2 separate regions of the Homo sapiens genome follow, and region 1 is linked to region 2. The links come from fine-mapping of genetic effects on gene expression. A gene starts in region 2. The other region holds a variant in brackets. All regions are shown on one strand. Distances are from middle to middle. Region 1 has its middle 200 kb from the start of MIR7160. Region 2 holds the start of KBTBD11-AS1 (KBTBD11 antisense RNA 1).

The links.
Region 1: its variant is fine-mapped to the expression of KBTBD11-AS1 in minor salivary gland (GTEx, PIP above 0.99).

Annotation. Positions count from the first base shown.
Region 1 is chr8:2,272,580-2,281,995 of GRCh38, reverse strand. No RefSeq gene overlaps it. Among named protein-coding and RNA genes, the nearest start is that of MIR7160, 200 kb to the right of the region's middle. RefSeq lists a silencer at 3,065-3,242. The variant T/C (reference allele first, on the strand shown) is at 5,432.
Region 2 is chr8:1,969,480-1,978,895 of GRCh38, reverse strand. KBTBD11-AS1 (KBTBD11 antisense RNA 1) reads left to right here and starts at 5,551. Exons shown (of 3, transcript NR_136275.1): 1 at 5,551-5,748; 2 at 6,233-6,356; 3 at 6,539-7,717. It overlaps KBTBD11 (kelch repeat and BTB domain containing 11), which reads right to left and starts at 5,219. Exons shown (of 2, transcript NM_014867.3): 1 at 4,961-5,219. It overlaps KBTBD11-OT1 (KBTBD11 overlapping transcript 1), which reads right to left and starts at 7,499. Exons shown (of 3, transcript NR_126346.1): 1 at 7,378-7,499; 2 at 6,859-6,971; 3 at 2,452-2,997. RefSeq lists enhancers at 1-349, 350-909.

The DNA of each region.
Region 1 (9,416 bases), 300 kb before region 2:
ATAAATACCATATACAATGATGCTTGCTTGGAATGTGTCACAGAAATGATGAAGCAAAATACCACTCACCTAGCGATTTTAGAAATGCTAATTGATGTCATAATCTTTGGCTTTGAACAGTTGTTTATAAACTGAATTTCTGGCTTTTCTAAATACCTAGAATTCTACACACACACCCCACCTTTGAGGTTTGTTTAAATACAGATGGCTGCTGTAGACAGAGAAACCAGCTCAGAAGAGTGTGGTTGTGCTATGATCTCTGAAAATTACTGCACTGTCTGTTAACAGTGCATAATCAGGTTCACCATTATAAAAAGGGGACTTAGTTCAGTCTTACTTTATGCAGGGAATTATACTGGGGCTTTAAATTATTAATATATTAAGGTATATACAAAGATAATATATACAAGAGATGTTGAATTACCAACCGAAGACCACATTGGGGCAAGGTACAATGGGTATAAATCAGAAAAGAGCAGGGACTGTACCTCTTTCTTCCACATTCCTCCTACGTCTGTTTTATGTCCTATTATACAGCTGGAAAAAGCTGATGAATTAAACTGGACTTGCAGCCCCAGAGCGTGACGTCACATCCAGGAGGCCATCAGTAGCAGGCCTTTGTTGAGCTGCTGAAAAGGAATTCTCCTGTAACTGGAAGCAAGTAGGAGAAATTTCCCGTTCCTTCCCACGCTACAGCATCACATATGGGAAAAGCTAACATCAAGAATGGCCTGGGATGTGCAGAATCTTCCAGTTCTTCATCCTCAGTGCCTGACTGTCGACAGTCCCACAGATTCACAGCCATGGGTGCAGGGGAAGCTTACTCTTTTTTGAACATAGGTTAGAAAAGCAGGAGCACATTTCTAAACAACTGGCTCCTTTCCAAAATGCATTAAGGCCAGAAGAATGCAAAGTATGAAGTCAAGAAAAACTCTAGCCCAACTGAGATCATCTGTGACATTCTTTAGAAGAGTTAGAGGGACATCCATGTTAAATGGAACAAAAACATTAAGTAAGAGATCCATCAACCCCACTTCTGGGTGTTAAAGATTTGAAATCAATGGGTCCAAGAGATATCTGCACTCCTAAGTTCATTGCAGCATGATTCACAATAGCCAAGTTATGAAATCAGTCTAAGTGTCCATTAAGGGACAAATGGATAAGGAAACTGTAGTTTATACACACAATGGAGTATTATCCAGCCCCTAAAAAGAAAAGAAATTCTGTTATTTGTGACAACATGGATGGAATTGTAGAACATTATGCTGAGTGAAATAAGCCAAACGCAGAAAGACAAGCACAGCATATCCTCACTTACTTGTGGAATTAAAACAATTGAACTCGGAGCAGCAGAGAGGGGAATGGTGGCTGCAGAGGCTGACGCCTGGGAAAACACAGACATGACAGTCAAAGACACAAAGCTTCAGTGAGATCAGAGGAAAAGTCTGATATTTTTTAGATCCATAGCACAGCATGCTGAATACATTCTAAATTGTCTATAAAGCGCATAACACCACTTTTTACCCATAAGTACATACAACTATAATTCGTCAATATACAACACATATTTGTTTTTAAATATTAAACACTAAGAGCTCTTTCCAACCTTTTCCTTGTAATCACCAAAAGTCAGGCTGAATTGCTTCATGGTTGTAAGGCACTCTCACATTTACTATTGCATTGGGAAATTAAAGAGCACAGAAGGGGCTCCTTCATTTAATTTCTCAACAGATTTGTCGTAGTAGGGAGCAACGTCTATAAAGATGGTACACTATCAGAAATGTCTTCAGAACGTCCTGAACAAACGTGACCTTCAGAAGTCATTGATGAAAGTATGCTGCCCTAAATCCTTAATCCAGAAGCTGGGTGGGAGTGGAGCATCTCCTTGGGATCAGGGGTGTCCGGGTGGGAGAAGAGCACCTCCTTGGGATTTTCTCTGCCTCATTTCTCAAGGGGGCACAAATGGAAGTTTCACAATTGGAGCCACTGTTAAATAAAGAAATGGAGGAGAAGGAAGTGGAGGAGGAGAGGGAAATGGGGAAGAAGAATTGACTGAAGACAGAATAGTTGGAATACCCTTGAGAAAGCAATATTTATTTCCACAGGAGTTATTTTAGTCAAAACTATGTTTGAACCAATTGCTCATTGAGTAGGTATCAGACGTTGTGTCAAACACTTTCCTGGGCCAGGCGCAGTGACTCACACCTGTAATCTCAGCACTTTGGGAGGCCCAGGCGGGTGGATCACTTAAGGCCAGGAGTTGAGGATCCACTTAGGCAACATAGTAAGACCCCATCTCTACAAAACATATGAAAATTAGCAGGACTTGGAGGTGTGCACCTGTGGTCCCTGTTTGTTGGGAGGCTGAGGTGAGAGGATTCCTTGAGCCTAGGAGTTCGAGGCTGCAGTGAGCAATGATTGTGCCACTACATTCCAGCCTGAGTGACAGAATGAGACCCTGTCTCCAAAAAATAAAAAACACTTTCCTATATCTTGTCTCACTAAATCCAACATACCAAACAATTCTCCAGAGGACACCAGCTGGGTGTCCTGTAATTCAACTTCACTCTGACCCTGTCTACCTAGAGAGAGGATCAGATCCCACGGGTTAAAGGACCCTGTCCCATAAGACGGTCCCCACGTCAGATACCAGCCACCACGCTTCTGACTGAATGGCCGCAAATCGGGCTCCCAGCACCCCCTTCTTGAGGTCAATTCATTTGCTAGAGCAGCTCACAGAACTCAGCAAAACACTATACTTACATTTGATGGTTTGTTAATAAGGTTATAATAAAGGACACAGAAGAACAGGCAGATGAAGCGATGGAGAGAGCGGGGTCTTGAAGGTCCCAAGCACAGGAGCATCTGGCCCCATGGAGTTGGGGTGCTCCACCCTCCTGCCATGCAGCTGTGCTCAGCAGCTTCTTAAGTGTTTTTATTTGGTTTTCTCTGTTTCTTTATTTTTTGAGACAGGGACTTTCTGTGTCACCCAGGATGTAGTGTAGTGACACGATCATAACTCACTGCAGTGCCAACCTCTTGGGCTCGAGTGACCCTCCCACTTTAGCTTCTGGAACTATAGGTGTGCAATAGGTGGCTTTTTTTTTTTAAAGTTTTTGTAGAACTGGGGTCTCACTATGTTGCCCCGGCTGGTCTTGAACTCCTAGACTCAAGCGATCCTCTTGCCTCAACCTCCCAAAGTGCTGGTATTAAAGGCATGAGCCACCACATCCAGCTAATTTTTGTTTGTTTGTTTGTTTGTAGAGATGGGGTCTCTCCATATTGCCCAGGCTTGAAAACTCCAAACTTCTAATCACGGCTTGGTCTTTCTGGTGACCAGGCCCATCTAGGAGCCACCAAGAGTTGCTTCATGAGAACAAAAGACGTTCCTCTCACTCAGAAAATTCCGAGGGTTGTAGAGCTCTGTGCCAGGAACTGGGGGGCAGAGATCAAGTATAGATTTCTTATTGTATCACAGCAGCCCTCTGGGGTCCCTTCTATAAGGGCACTAATCCCACGACCTAATCACCCCCAAGTCCCTCTCCTAGTACCATCACTTTGGTGATTAAGATTCAACATGGAATCTGGGGGTGACACAAACCCTCAGACCATAGCAAGTTGTCGCCATCTTATTAATGTATTTTAAATGTTAACATTTTGTCACGCTCCAAACATTTTGCTCTGTTGGCTCCCTGATGGGAAAGCCCATGCTTGGGGACCCTCCCCCAGCTCTTCCTGTGCCCATGTCCCGCTGGGGACCCTGTCACATCCACACTGCCAAGACTCTGGGGGGCCGAGTCTTCCAAGAGCTGGGCAGAACAAAAGCACATTGGACTCAAGAATGGGGAGTCAGTCCCTGGGCCCGGCACTCACAGCGCCCTCTGTCCTCGTCTCCTTTACTGCTCAGGTCATCCAGCTGTCCCCAGAGCGCATGCCCTCTTCGAGGACAAGACCCCCACTATAGACCCTAGGCCAAACTGAACAAGTGCTTTTCATATGGATACAGATTTATGTTACTTACTCTAAAATTGTTTAGAGCTCATGATTTGTTATAGTTTTTTTTTTTTTTTTTGTCTTTTTTGAGGTGGAGTCTTGCTCTGTTGCCCAGGCTGGAGTGCAGATGCCTGATCTCGGCTCACTGCAACCTCCACCTCCTGGGTTCAAGCAATTCTCCTGCCTCAGTCTCCCAAGTAGCTGGGACTACAGGCACCGGCCACCATGACTGGTTAATTTTTGTATTTTTTTTTAGTAGAGACAGGGTCTTACTATGTTGCCCAGGTGGATCCTGAACTCCTGGCCTCAAGTAATCCACCTGCCTGGGCCTCCCAAAGTGCTGAGATTATAGGCGTGAGCCACCATGCCCGGCCTTAAGTATTTTTTACAAGTACAATGACAATAATGAAATTTTACCTGGGATTTCACCTGAGAATTCTCCAAAAGTTTACTGCCTCTTTTCCCTTATTTCTTAGAGTGGAGATGACACCCTCACGTTATGTTATACAGCGGTGAGTAAGATGTGCTTCATTGTTAGGATGGAGTGGTATTCAGTACATATCATTTATTTTCTTATTTTTGTTTTTTGAGACAGGGTCTCGCTCTGTTGCCCAGGCTGGAGTGTAGTGGCACCATCACACCTCACTGAAGCCTCAACCTCGTGGGCTCAAGCTATCCTTCCTCCTCAGCCTCCTGAGTAGCTGAGACTACGGGCGAGTGCCACCACGCCCAGCTAATTTTTGTATTTTTTGTAAAGGTGAAGTGTGTTTTTTTTTTTTTTTTTTTTGACAGAGTGTTGCTTGTCACCAAGGCTGGAGTGCAGGGGTGCAATCTTGGCTCACCACAACCTTCGCCTCCTGGGTTCAAACGATTATCATGCCTCAGCTTCCCGAGTAGCTGGGATTACAGGTGTGTGCCACCACACGCAGCTGGTTTTTGTACTTTTAGTAGAGATGGGGTTTAACCATGTTGGTCAGGCTGGTCAAAACTCCTGATCTCAGGTGATCCATCCGCCTCGGCCTCCCACAGTGCTGGGGTTACACCCATGAGCCAACACGCCCGGCCAGACAGGCCATTTCCATGATGCCCAGGCTGGCCTTGAACCCCTGGGTTCGAGCAAACTGCCAGCCTCAGTCTCCCAATGTCCTAGGATTACAGGCGTGAACCACTGCTCCCAGCCAGTATACGTAATTTAAATGTTTTACAATTAATTATTTAAATTAAATGATTTAAACAAAATTATTCGAATGATGTAAACACCCTAGAAATAAATCCGGGTATTAAGAAGGAAGAATCACGTTCCAAGGGAAAAGGAGCTAATATTAATCCAAAACATTTGGTGCACTATACATAGTTATTTAGTATATTTACTAGATGTAGTGTGTATAAATAGTCACCAGATAGGTAGGTAAAGACAGAAAGGGAGATTGAATTAACA[T/C]TACTTTTAGAAGTCAACCGGAGCTACTCAGGAAAGGCCCAGCACTAACATAAAGGGATGAATCGGCCAGGCTGGCCAGTAGGGGATAGCGAAGACTGTGGCAAAACCAAGTGTATGCCTAGCCAACATCATGTTCAGGTTACTTCTCAAACCAGCCAGCACCTAAACCACACGCCTCTGTGGGCTGACAATACATATTTGGGCCAGATGAGGCCTGCAGACGGTCAGCCCCTAAAGAGATGTCTGGTGAGGAAGCTATTTTGAGCTGAGACTGGACAGCTGAGAAGTGTTAGGGACTCATTAACACTTCCCAACCTAAACAACAGTTTAATTCAAGCTGGACAGAGCTGAGACATGGGCAGGCCTGAAGCAGAGTGAATGAGAGATGGAGAAAAGGCTGTTTATAACAATTAAGGTAGAACCCACAGAAGCATTTATAAGCTTTGGAAATAAGGGTTTTAAAACTATTGCCCTGGTAGGTACTTTTTACATCATGTAAGTAAACCCTAAAATGGCCAACATATCTAGGTTTAAAGAGCAATATTAAAAAAGCTTATTTTCTCCATTTTCCCTGCAAGAGATAATCCTAAACATCCATTGTATCAAGCTAGTCAGTCTCTACCTTGAACGTGGTTGCAACTGTAGGTGGCACAGATAACGACGTTTGGAAGAATTAAGTGATTTTGTATTAAAAAGCCCTTATTTCTGAATATATATGGGATATTTTGGAAAGAGGTATACACATGGATTTCTTTTTAATTGGAGATTAGATGTTTAATCATACTCTCAAAATGATCCATGTAGACCAAAATGTGAAGTTGTGCTGGTCTATAGCGGTGTTTTCCAGCTCTGGATCTCCCTGCAACAGCAGCCTCATGACCCGCGAGTTAATCAGAAACAGAACGAGCGGATCCACCCGCCCAGCGAATCAGCCTCTGTGGGGCGAGGCCGGGGGCTGAGGACAGGCTCTCCAGGTGAGTGACCCAACGCGGCTAAAATATATGACCTGCGGTCCTGGCTGCACATCCTCAGAGACTTCTCAGTGAAGTAATTTGGTACAGATTTTAGGAAAAGATATTTATGTTGTCTTTACTAACCAGAACCAGTTTAAATACAGTCTTTTAGAAGGAGAGGAAACAGAATCCATCCTATTTTTCCAGAGGTAACTTTTGTGTGTGTGTGACTCACATCTGTTTTCTGTTTCCCATTCGGAAAGTGTCTCCAGGGTAGTGGCCTGCACCCTATGAGCATGTCCACTAACCAAATGAACGAGAGGTATTCAATCACTTAGGTTAGTTAAAGTCTGTGTGATTCCCCAAGGTTTAGCTCACGGGTGAAAGGGCACATGCTTTCAATGAGATCTAAAGTTTTTGGCAAGTTGATCGTAAGCCCGAGAGACCCCATGGTTCAAACGCAAGCACATGTGTAGGGCACACACATACACATAGCTGTGGAAGCTTCGTGGATGCACTTTCTCCATCTGCATTTTCCGGAATTTCCCTGCATCACATAGTGAAGGGGAAACCAGATGTGCAGAAAAGGTTCTCCTCGGGAGGCGAAGGCAAACAGAGCTGTCCTGTTTGCTCCCCACTGAAGCCACTTACACATAACTCTGTAGTCCATAGTCAACAAGATGACTCCAAGGGGAAGGAGGGAGGAGGAAAGGAAAAAGTCAAGGCAGAGGAGATTAGCTTGGCAACACACAGCCGAGCATCCATCCATATTCTGTATCATATTATCCCGCCTGCTACACAAGTACCTCACAGCAGATAGCACTGACTGCCTGACTACACACGCCAGGGGCATGTTGCTGGATAGCTGTGCTTTTTCTCCATGTCTGCTTACATTTAATCTTCAAATCACTTATACACAGATTTATATACACAAATGCACATATACACATATACATAAACACACCTGTGCAGGTATACACACAAGGACGTATACATGATAAAGTCTAGTTGAACTACATTAATCATGGGTACATGCATGTACATACATGCACACATAAGTACATGCTAGAATCCACTTATGCTGATTACATTAATCATGGGTGTATTAGTCCGTTTCCACACTGCTATAAAAAATGCCCGAGACTCGGTAATTTATAAAGGAAGATGGTTTATTTGACTCATAGTTCCACATGGCTGGGGAGGCCTCAGGAAACTTACAATCATGGCAGAAGGTGAAAGGGAAGCAAGGCACCTTACTCACAGGGTGGCAGGAGAGAGAAATGCAAGCAGGGGAAATGCTAGACGCTCATGAAATCACCAGATCTCATGAGACTCACTCATCATCACAAGAACAGCATGGCGGAAACCACCTCCACGATCCAATCACCTCCCTCCCTCGGCATGTGGGGATTGCAATTCAAGATGAAATTTGAGTGGGCCACAGAGCTAAACCATATCAATGGGTATATGTGAGTACATAGACACACACACACACACACACACATGCACAGACATGCTAGAGTCCAGCTACACTGATTACATTAATACATTAATCACGGGTGTATGCGTGTGTGTGTATATATACATATATATATATATGTATATATACACACACTATGACATGCTAGAGTCCAGTTACACTGATTACATTGACCATGGGTGTACGCGTGTACATATATACATACACAAGGACATGCTAGAGTCTAATTACACTGATTATATTAACCATGGTGTATGCCTGTACATATATATACACACACAAGGACAAACTAGAATCTAGTTACACTGATTATATTAACCATGGTGTATTCCTGTACATAGATACAAACACAAGGACATGCTAGAATCTAGTTACACTGATTATATTAAGCATGGTGTATTCCTGTACATAGATACACACACAAGGACATGCTAGGGTCCAGTGACACTGATCACATTAATCAAGCTTCAACGCACCCTCTAAAGTCAGTATTACCCACACCAAATGTTAAATGTCATATTTCAACAATATAACAAAATTCTCAGACAAAATGTATCCAAACCTCAAAACCATGCTCTTTCCACCCAAAGTACTACCTCCTCTGTGGATACCCTTGATATACTTTATATTCTTTTTTTTTTTTTTCCATTTCAGGGTTAATTATACTTGTTAGGCACATTTTTACTTTTTGTTACACATAAAAATGTTTGTAAATAGATAAAAATTTAAATTTCAGAAAGCTACTCCTGCCTGGACGAGGCTATCTGAAGCACACATGGATCGTTGGCGGGTTCCAAAGGGCAGTATTTGGGGCAAATGGAATAAACTCTCTAAGCTAGTTCAGCCTGAGCTGGTGGTGTGGAGTAAGACTTTGGGAAATGTGAGGGACGTCCCCTCCAGGGAGCAGGATAGACAGATGTAGGGAGCAGAGGGAGGACATCACAGCAGATCCAGAGGCTGATGTTGTCTTGTAATGAAATAAAACTGGAGACGGACTAGGGGCTTCAAATCAACGAAGAGGAGCCTGAGATGAAGACTCATGGTATGAAATTTGGGAGAAAACAGCAAAAGGCCAGTTGAGGACGCATTCCACAACCACGTGCCCAGTGGCATGGAAGAGCAGATGTCTGAGGTCATGGCATTCTCCCTCTGCACCACCCCAAAGGCCTGCTGCCACAACTGATGCATTCTCTCTCCACCCCCGCAGACATCACCAGTACATTCCTGACAAAAAGCAATATATTTTTACTCTGCAGATGACAAATGTCTCCACTGCCATTTTCTCGCTGTTTTCACGCGTACAGAGACCCACAAGCCCGCCAAATGAGGACGGCTGGAAAGATTTTCCTCTGCAGATTAGAAATTAAGTCTTGGGTTTCTTTTGTAATAGGCAGGCACAGCCACATTACCATTGTATTTGGCTTTTGCGGGAGGTTAAAGTTATTGACAATGAACTGTTTAAACATGTGTGCAAGCTGCTTTATGGAGCGCCTTTAACGAGAAAGGATGGAGAGGGAGCCTGTGCGAAAGCCGCCCTTACAGATTAGGAGAA
Region 2 (9,416 bases):
GGCACTTTCACACCTGACTTCCATGATGACTTCCTGGAGCCCAAGTCTTGATGCCACAACAGGATGAGACTTGGGGATCGCCGTAGCCTTTTTTATGTGGAAGGGACATGACCTTAGTGGAAAGAGCAGATTCTATTTTCCAAACATGCCGCATGGATGAACCCTGCTCGGCACGCCCATCCCGCCCAGTGAGATTCCCCTGCGCTCACAGTTGAGACCCCGTTCCCTCCCCTTCTACGTGGCAGGCCAGGGACTGAGGGGGAAGCAACACAACATGACCTCCCCGCCTCGTGAGAAAGGTGACCCGGTTCCACCTGGCTGTTTTCTCAGGTCACAGTCCGTGGTGACCCTGACTCAACACACAGGGAGTCCACTGCATCAAGGCTGCCACGCTGCAGCGAGTACATGGACGGTCACACAGTGACAGGGGAAGGTCCCCGAGGGGCCCCTGCTGCGCCAGCCCCCAGTGTGTGAATCCTCCTGGCGCAAGCCTCAGGCAGCAAGTCAGTGGCCTCCATGGTTCCAGCCCTTGGCCTTCAAGCTCCGCATCTGGTGCTGAGTGGCACCAAGGTGAGCTGTGCCCAGCGAGACTGCAGACTTTTAAGCAAAATGAATGCTATTGCTACGAATACAGGAACAGAAAACCAAACACCACGTTCTCACTTATAAGTGGGAGCTGAATGATGAGAACACATGGACTCAGGGAGGGGAACAACACACACTGGGGCCTGTAGAGGGCGGCGGAGGGAGAGCATCAGGATAAAGAGCTAATGCCTGCTGGGCTTAATACCTAGGTGATGGGTTGACAGGTGCAACAAACCACCATGGCACACGTTTACCTATGTAACAAAACTGCACCTCCCGCACATGTACCCTGCAACTTAAAATATAAATAAATGCTATTGTTTTAAGCCACTAAGCTGTGCATGGCTTATTGAACCACCATGATATTGGAACAAGGGTCGTGATACGAATATTCAGAACTGTGAACTGCATCTTGCAGGAATGGGAAGCTATGAAAGGCCCACTATTGTAAGAATTTTAAAAAATAATTGCTCTGAGCTGGGAGTGGTGGTTCATGCCTGTAATCCCAGCACTTTGGGAGGCCAAGGCAGGAAGATCACTTGAGGCCAGGAGTTCGAGACCAGCCTGGCTAACATGCTGAGACCCCATCTCTACTAAAACTACAAAAAAAAATAAATAAATAAGTTGGGTGTGCTGGAGGGCGCCTGTAATCCCAGCTACTCGAGAGACTGAGACATGAGAATTGCTTGAACCCTGGAGGCGGAGGTTGCCGTGAGCTGACATGGTGCCACTGGATTCCAGCCTGGATGACAGAGCCAGACTCCATCTCAAAATATAATAATAATAATAAAAATCATTGTTCTGACTACTGCAGGAGGACCTGTTCAAAGAGAGGATGTGCAGAGCCTCTCCAGAGACTACTGCAGGAGTCCAAGCATGAGATGGAGGTGGCCAGGACAAAGATGGTACACTTCATAGAACCACACCCATATGTATGTCCCCACGACTCTACACCTTTCTAATAAAACAGTAACAATACCAGCTAACATCGGCACCGTGGTTTTTCATTTACAAAACATTCTATGTGCATCTTCCTATTTAATGATTTCACTTTAGGACTCGGGAAGTCTCCATGCTACAAAATTAATCCATATGAAACTCAGTCAAGCTCTAAAGCAGGGGTCTCCAATCTTTTGGCTTCCGTGGGCCACACTGGAAGAATTGTCTTGGGTCACACATAAAATAGACTAACACTAATGATAGATGATGAGCTTAAAAAAAAAAAAAACTCATAATGTTTTAAGAAAGTTTACAAATCTGTGTTGGGCCTCATTCAAAGCTGTCCTGGGCCACATGTGGCTCGTGGCCCATGGGTTGGAGGACCTTGCTCTAAAGTGTGAAGCTCCATCAATTTAACTCAGCCATAAAATCGGCTGACATTACACTTTTACTACACCCTGCTCCAGCGCCCCTCACTGACCTCTCCGTGCTCTAGTCCTCACCACAGGGCCTTTGCACACAATGTTCCCGCAAACTGTCCCCTCCTGGGCTCCTGAGCCACCCCTCTCATCCCTTAGTTCTCGGCCTAACATTCCTCTGTTACGTGCATTCAAGGGAATGTATTCCTCTCCTTCAACGCACTCATCTCCGTGTGTTATTACCTAAGAATTAACGTAATTATATGCTGAATGCCTTTCACTGTATTAACGTCTCAGCTGCAGATAGCAGAGAACTAGGCTGACTTTACTTACAACTGTATTCCCAGCACCTAGGACTGAGCCTGACCCACAGCAGGGTGGGGGGTGGGGGAGCAGGGGAACTCCACAAATATTCAGAAGAGAAGGAAATTCATGCTAATCCTTCAAACAAAATGCACATAAGACATGCAACGGTTTCTATTTCCAAGACAACATTTATTTCAAAATCATTTCTAGCAGGAACCTGGCTGTTGGCAAAAAGTAAACTAGATGCTTTAATTTATTCTTAAAGTTTTTGCTCATTGTTAAATACTTTGCAAACATGTGCTGGATACCAACACTATACTTTTAGCTTAATTACAATGATTTCAAGAGGAAAAAAAAAACAAACTCAAGACCACAATTGACACGATGAGCCCTTGACCTCCGGAGAAGGGCAGATATCGCCCTGAGTCACCAAGGGAACACATGCTGAATGACAGGCTGATTTGTGATCAGGAAACCCGCTGTTCTCCGGGCCCTTCTCAAGCCCACTCAGACACCAGTCCTCCTTGATCACAGCCTTGGATGCAAGGAGGCTTAGAGGCACTGCAGCTGCCTAAGTGATTCCAGATTTGCAGGAGAGCTATTATTACTGAGCAATCTGTGCTCTTGGTATTTAGAAAACAACTGAAACATGTGCCCAGATGGAGGCGTCCACAGCACGGAGAGTCTCTCTGTATCAGCACAGGGACAAAGACGGGACCTGCTGGGCTCCCACTGCCAAGGTTGCTACCTGTACCGGAACATATGGAAACCCCATTGAAGCGGGTTTGTATTGGAGTTTACAAATGATGCGATAAGCTCCAAACCACCTTTCCGGATTCTTCCATCCACCCAGAGCAAGGTGCTCTGAGGTTCAAGTTAGGCCCAGACATCAGTCAACACAGAGTCCTGCTCCCTGGGAATTTCTTTAGTCTCAGAGCCACAACATTTAAGCTTTCTCCCCTCCTCCCAAGCCCAATGCTGGCTTAAATACAGTCACGAATGGTTCAGATGCAGACAGGTTCTGAGAAATGATAGTTAGATAACTTCATCACTGTGCAAACATCACACAGGGCACCTACACACCTAGGCGGTGCAGCCTGCTACACACCTGTGCTCCACTGCACAGACTCCTGCTCCAGACTGCACACCTGTGCAGCGTGCACAATACCGCAGGCAATTGTAACACAATGGTGTTTGTGTATCTACACATTTCTAAGCATGAAAAAGACACAGGGAAAACAGTTTTATAATCTTACAGGACCACCGTCAACTTGGCGGTCTGTAATTGATCCGAACGTGGCTGTGCTACACATCACTATAATGTAAGCAACATCTTTTAACTGATTTTATTATGTGCTGTCCAATGCTATGGCCAGCAATGCCTGTGCAACTGACATGGAAAGTTCAAAGGCTTTACCTCATTACAATTTTTACTTAGTTATGCCCTGATGGGAGCATTGCAATGCCAGTTACCATAAATCTGCACACACGAGGTTGTTGCTGGAGCAAATCTGAAGGCAATGGAACGCTCCCTTCCGTGATGTCAGGAATGGGGAGGATTATTCTAATAATAGCACACTATTAGCTCAGGATAAAAGGCTGAAGGGTTCCATTGACATCCATTAAGGGGTCCTAATTGGAGCCTGAGTAACTGCTCCTTAGTGGGAAATGGAGGCGGGAACCGCGGGGAATCGGGCGAACTTCTCACTCAGGGCCTGAGGGGATGGCTGGAACTTTAAAATCTGACGGCGGCGCCTTTCGTGGGCTGAGTAGAATAAAGCTCGCTGCACTGATTTGTTCCTTTTCTTTTCCTTAGAATAGACACTGGAGTGGGTGGAGGGGGAAACGTGGTTTTGTAGGACTCTAAAGAGGTGGAGGGACTTTGGTTCACCCTCTTTTCATGCTCCAGAATGAGCCCCGCCTGAGAGGAGGGACCCCTGCGGAATCCCGCCCAGACCGCCCGGGGGTCTCCCCAGCACATGGGGCGGGGGCTGCAAGGGGCGCCCGGCAGGACTCGGGAGCCGCGGCGCGGTGGGGCGGGTGGGTCGCGGTGCTCGGGGCTCGCGGGGGTCAGCAGCCAGGACACCCCCGCACCCCGGGCGCAGCGGCGGAGGACCAAGGGCCGCGCTCCCCTCCCCAGGGCCCCGAGTCCAGGAGAGACCCCCGTTCGCTCCGGACAGCCGATCCCCGCGACCGCCGAGAGCCAAGCGGAGCAACCCCGGGAGGAGCCCCCGCCCTGGCCCCGCGCGCTTGGCTTCGGCTTCTGCTCCTGCTTCCGTGCCGGCTGGGGCGGCGGGACCCTCGGCGGGGGCGGTGACTGCGGGCGCGGCGCGGGCGGCTCATTGTCTTCCGGCCGGGGTTGCCGCGTCCCGGGGGAGGGCCTGTGGAGACCCCGCGAGGAGGCCCCCACGCCCCCCACGCGGCCTCCCGGAGGCGGAGCGGAGACCACCCACCGCCGCCCACCCCGCCGCGGGCAGCGCTGCCCCCTCCTCTCCCGGTCCCCCCTCCCCTCCCCTCCGCTCCGCTCCCCTCCCTCCCCTGCCGGCCTCCCCTCCCCGCCTCTCCCCTGCCGGCCTCCCCTTTTCTCCCCTCCCGCCTACTGCCGCTCTCGCCGACCACCTCCCACCCGCCGCCCCCTCCGACCCGCGCCTCGGGCTGCTTCCCGCTCCGCCCGCCAGGCCCCGCCGCTGCCTCCCCGGGGTCCGCCCTACCTCGCCGCGGCTCCTCTTCAGCCGCCGGGCCCGGGACGCGCAGCCAGGCGGGTGGGCTCCGGCGCATGCGCGCGGCCGCTTCCCGGCACCTGTGGGAGCCGCGGCCCGGCCTCTCCGAGCACCTGCGAGCGGGAGCTGCTCCTCCGACCCGCAGCGGGGCGTGGGCGGCAGAGGGGGCGGTGGACAGGCCTCTCCGCCTCTCCAGGCCGCGCGGAGCCAGCGCTCCGGCTCCAGGCTGCGAGGGGCGCGCGCGGGGCGCGGGGAGGGGGGCGGGCGCGTGCACACGGGGCGTTTTCGGGCGCGCGCCCCCTGGCTGGGTCTGCGGAGGGGCTGTGGGTTCCCCGGGGCTTCCCTGCCCCGCGCCTGCCCGCCGGGCGCTTCTCCCCCTCCAGGACCGCGGCCCACGTCGCCACTCGAGCCCGAGCCCGAGCCCGCGCCCACGCGCGGGGGCCGCTTCCTGCGAGGAGGCGGGGACAGGTGTCCGCGGGCGCAAACAGCGGAGTTTCGTGCGCCTATTTTTTGGTAAAAGTAGAGGCGATGCGTTGTTGACATATTTAGTGGTTAAAAACTTATTGCCAAATTCTCAACAGATTCCAGAATTTTTTAAAGTTCACAACACGAGAGTGGACGAAATGTCGGAGCTTTTGCTCATATCCAGAAATGTGGCCTCTGCCTCCCACTCGGGCCCTGCGGTGCAGACGGGTTCAGGGCGGCGAGGACTGAGCCAGGAGCGCCGAGAGTTCCAGCTGCTCCCAGGCTGGGTTCTAATTAACGCTGGACCCCTGCTGGTAAATGCTATTTTTAATGGCTTTGTGCAAATTAATGACGATGAGATTTCCATAAGTACCGAGAGCCAGAGCCTTTACTTTCTCTTTTTGTGTTCTTTTTGCTTGTGACAGTCTTTGCCAGTTCCATGCTGTATACACATAATGAGCCGTTACAACTCCAGCACCAAAGCTAACGCCCCGGGAACATCTTTAAAACCTTTTTCACTCTGTTGCCAAGAAGAGTAGTACCTGCTGTCAGTACTTGAATTACAGGAGGCTGAAACTCAGCGAGCTACTGGGATTTTTTGAAAATTGAAAACTTCCGTTAACTATAGCAGAAACAGACCCTTTTGGTGGAAGCTAAAATAATTCCCATGCTGCTCCGTTTTTATTTTGTTCAGTTTACTCCAAAAATGTTCCAAACTCTACTGTGATCTTCTTAGTGCATCTCTACTTCCTTTCGGCTGCAGAATAATACTTCTTTTTCTCTTTTGTTTTTTTTTAGAGATGGAGTCTCACTCTGTCGCCCAGGCTGGAATGCAGTGGTGCAATCTCGGCTCACTGCGATCTCTGCGTCCTGGGTTCAAGCAATTCTCCTGCCTCAGCCTCCCAAGTAGCTGTGACTACAGGCATGCACCACCACACCCAGCTAAATTTTGTATTTTTAGTAGAGACAGGGTTTCACTGTACATTGGCCAGGCTGGTCTCGATCTCCTGACCTCAAGTGATCCACCTGTCTTGGCCTCCCAAAGTGCTGGGATTACAGGCATGAGCCACCGCGCCTGGCCTAACTACCCCCATTCTTTTCCAGAGAAACGTGAACAGGCCAAACAAAGCCTCACCTGGCTATCCCGCCACCCTGGGGTTGGGCCTCCAAAGGCCCGGGAGGTCACCTAAGACACGGTGTTCTGAACATGCAAGCCCGACAGCATCTTCTCTACCATTCTGCCAGAGTCCAGAGACCTGGGAATAGGTCATACCCCCCACTGCATTTTACAAGCTTGGCATACATTAGGTTCTCAATAAATACTGAATTAATGAAAAAATTGCTGAAGTAACTGAAAACATCCATCCAAACCCCACACCATCTGGTAGATAAGTAGTCTGTGGGGAGTCCCATATTTTTCTTACCTTAGATATTTATTTGGAAATGGACTGTAGGCCCAATATGGTCAATGAAACTTGCAGAGGAACATTTCATGCCTTTAATTAGTTCTTCATAACTGCAGGGACCTCTAGAGTTCCTGAAATTGAACTGGGTTGTAATACTGTCAAGAAAAAGGAGGACCTATCTTAAATCTATTTCAAGGGTAATACTATTTTACTATGTAAATTTTCCCCTGGTCAGGGACAGCCTGATCATGCATGGTAGACTCGAAGCATGCAAATATTTCAACATGCAAAACCGCCCTAAAAATATAACCGAAGCTTATGGAGTTGTCCAGGGTACAGTGGTTTACTGGCCCCTGAATGCGGGACTCCATCAAACTGGGTTCCAGGCTGGGAGGTCTCTGAACCCAATTTCTAGACAGCCTGCTTTGGAGTTCAACTGATGGGACCTTAGACACCAGCCTTACCCTCTGCAAGTCTTGTGATTTGGAGCCAGATACTTGGCCTCTCTGTGCTCCAGGGAGACACCACTGCACCTACCTGAGAGGACTGAAGGAGAGGATCTGTGCAACTCACTCAGGATACTGGATCTTAAGCCAATGGGTGGACTTACATTCGTCACCTCTGATTCTGTCTCCTCCTGCGCGGTGACTTAGCAAACACTTCTTCCTCTCCAGCTCTGCTTCTTACTCTCCAGCTCTGCTGCCCTGTTCCAGTGCTGACGCCAGACAACAGATAATTTCCCAAATGCTTGTATTAGCCCTTAGGAGTTCATGTGTTCCTCCCCCAGCCAATAAAGCTGTTAAATCCCAATAACTGTCAGGAATGGAGCCAATTGCTATAAAGTACTTCCAGCTTCTTGGCATGAAGAAATAATTAGAATATATGTGTTGGCTTTGAAACAACACTCACTGGTTCATTAAAAAATTCTGTGCATATTGTACAAAAGTAGTCTTGGCCTTGGCACTCCCTTAGGTGAACCTTACCCGGCCCTGGCACTCCCTTAGGTGAACCTTACCCGGCCCTGGCACTCCCTTAGGTGAACCTTACCTACTTCAGTGCTTCCTCAGCTCTGATGAACTGTGTGCAATTGCGTTTTTGTCGCAAGCTGCTGCTTAAATACTGTGAAGCTCTTTCCTTATGTCAGTCTCTCCACCTATGTTACCAGCCAGCGCCTGAGACCCTCATATTAAGGAAACAGTGTGTTCCTAAGTCCTCTTTGATATTGTCCACTATTGACTATCGATAGCAAACATGCATTGGCCATGTGCTAAGCATGTCATTCCCCAAATTTTATTTTTTTGAGACAGTTTCGCTCTTGTTGCCCAGTGTGAAGTGGAATGGTGTGATCTCAGCGTACTACAACCTCCACCTTCCGGGTTCACGTGATTCTCCTGCCTCAGACTCCCGAGTAGTTGGGATTACAGGTGTGTGCCACCACGCCCGGCTAATTTTTTTTATTTTTAATAGAGATGGGGTTTCACCACGTTGGTCAGTCTGGTCTCAAACTCCTGACCTGAGGTGATCCACCCACCTCGGCCTCCCAAAGCGCTGGGATTACAGGCGTGAGCCACCGTGCCTGGACCCCAAATTTTAAATTACAGACAGTCCCAGGTTTAAGATGATACCCTAATTGTCCTGATTCGAATAGGGAAACGGAGGCCATGCTTTTTAGTTTTGTACCCCTGGGCCCAGCAATGTGAGGGCATGAAGCCAAGCTCGGTAATTGTTGACTAAATGAAGGAGTGAGGCCTGTTGAGCCCAAATGCCCATTGCTCATCATCCCTGACAGGCTCTCCCAGGGGCTGCAGGGGCCTGGGCACGTGGTTCCCTCAAGCAGATTGCAGGTTACCCACAGGCAACACGCTCTGCCAGTGAATTAACGCTGCTGTCTCCACATGGCCAGTACGTTTATTAGGGGGAATCCTAGTAACCATTTTTCAGAAAAATAAAGGAAATAAGATGGCAACCATTACTTTAAAATAGTTTCAAGGCATATATTAATAATGTTAGAGCAAGTTAGCTGCAATTTAAAATATTTTGAGGGTCGGGGGCAGTGACTCACATCTGTGGTCCCAGCACTTTGGGAGGCTGAGGCGGGCAGATTGCCTGAGCCTAGGAGTTGGAGACCAGCCTGGGCAACATGGAGAAACCCTGTCTCCACAAAAATACAAAACATTAGCCGGGCGTGCTGGCGTGCACCTGTAGTCCCAGCTACTCAGGAGGCCGAAGTGAGAGGATTGCTTGAGCCTGGGAGGTTGAGGCTGCTCTGAGCCATGATTGCGCCACTGCACTCCAGCTGGAGCAACACAGTGAGACCCTGTCTCAAATATATATATTTATGTATTTTAAATATAAATTTTATGTTATATTTATATTTATATATTTATATATATTTATATAGATTTATAGATTTATAGATTTATAGATTTTATTATTTATAAAATCTATAAATATATAAATATATATAAATATATAAATATATAAATATATATTATATATAAAATATAAAATATATATTTATATATAAAATATAAAATATATATTTATATATAAAATATAAAAATATATATTACATA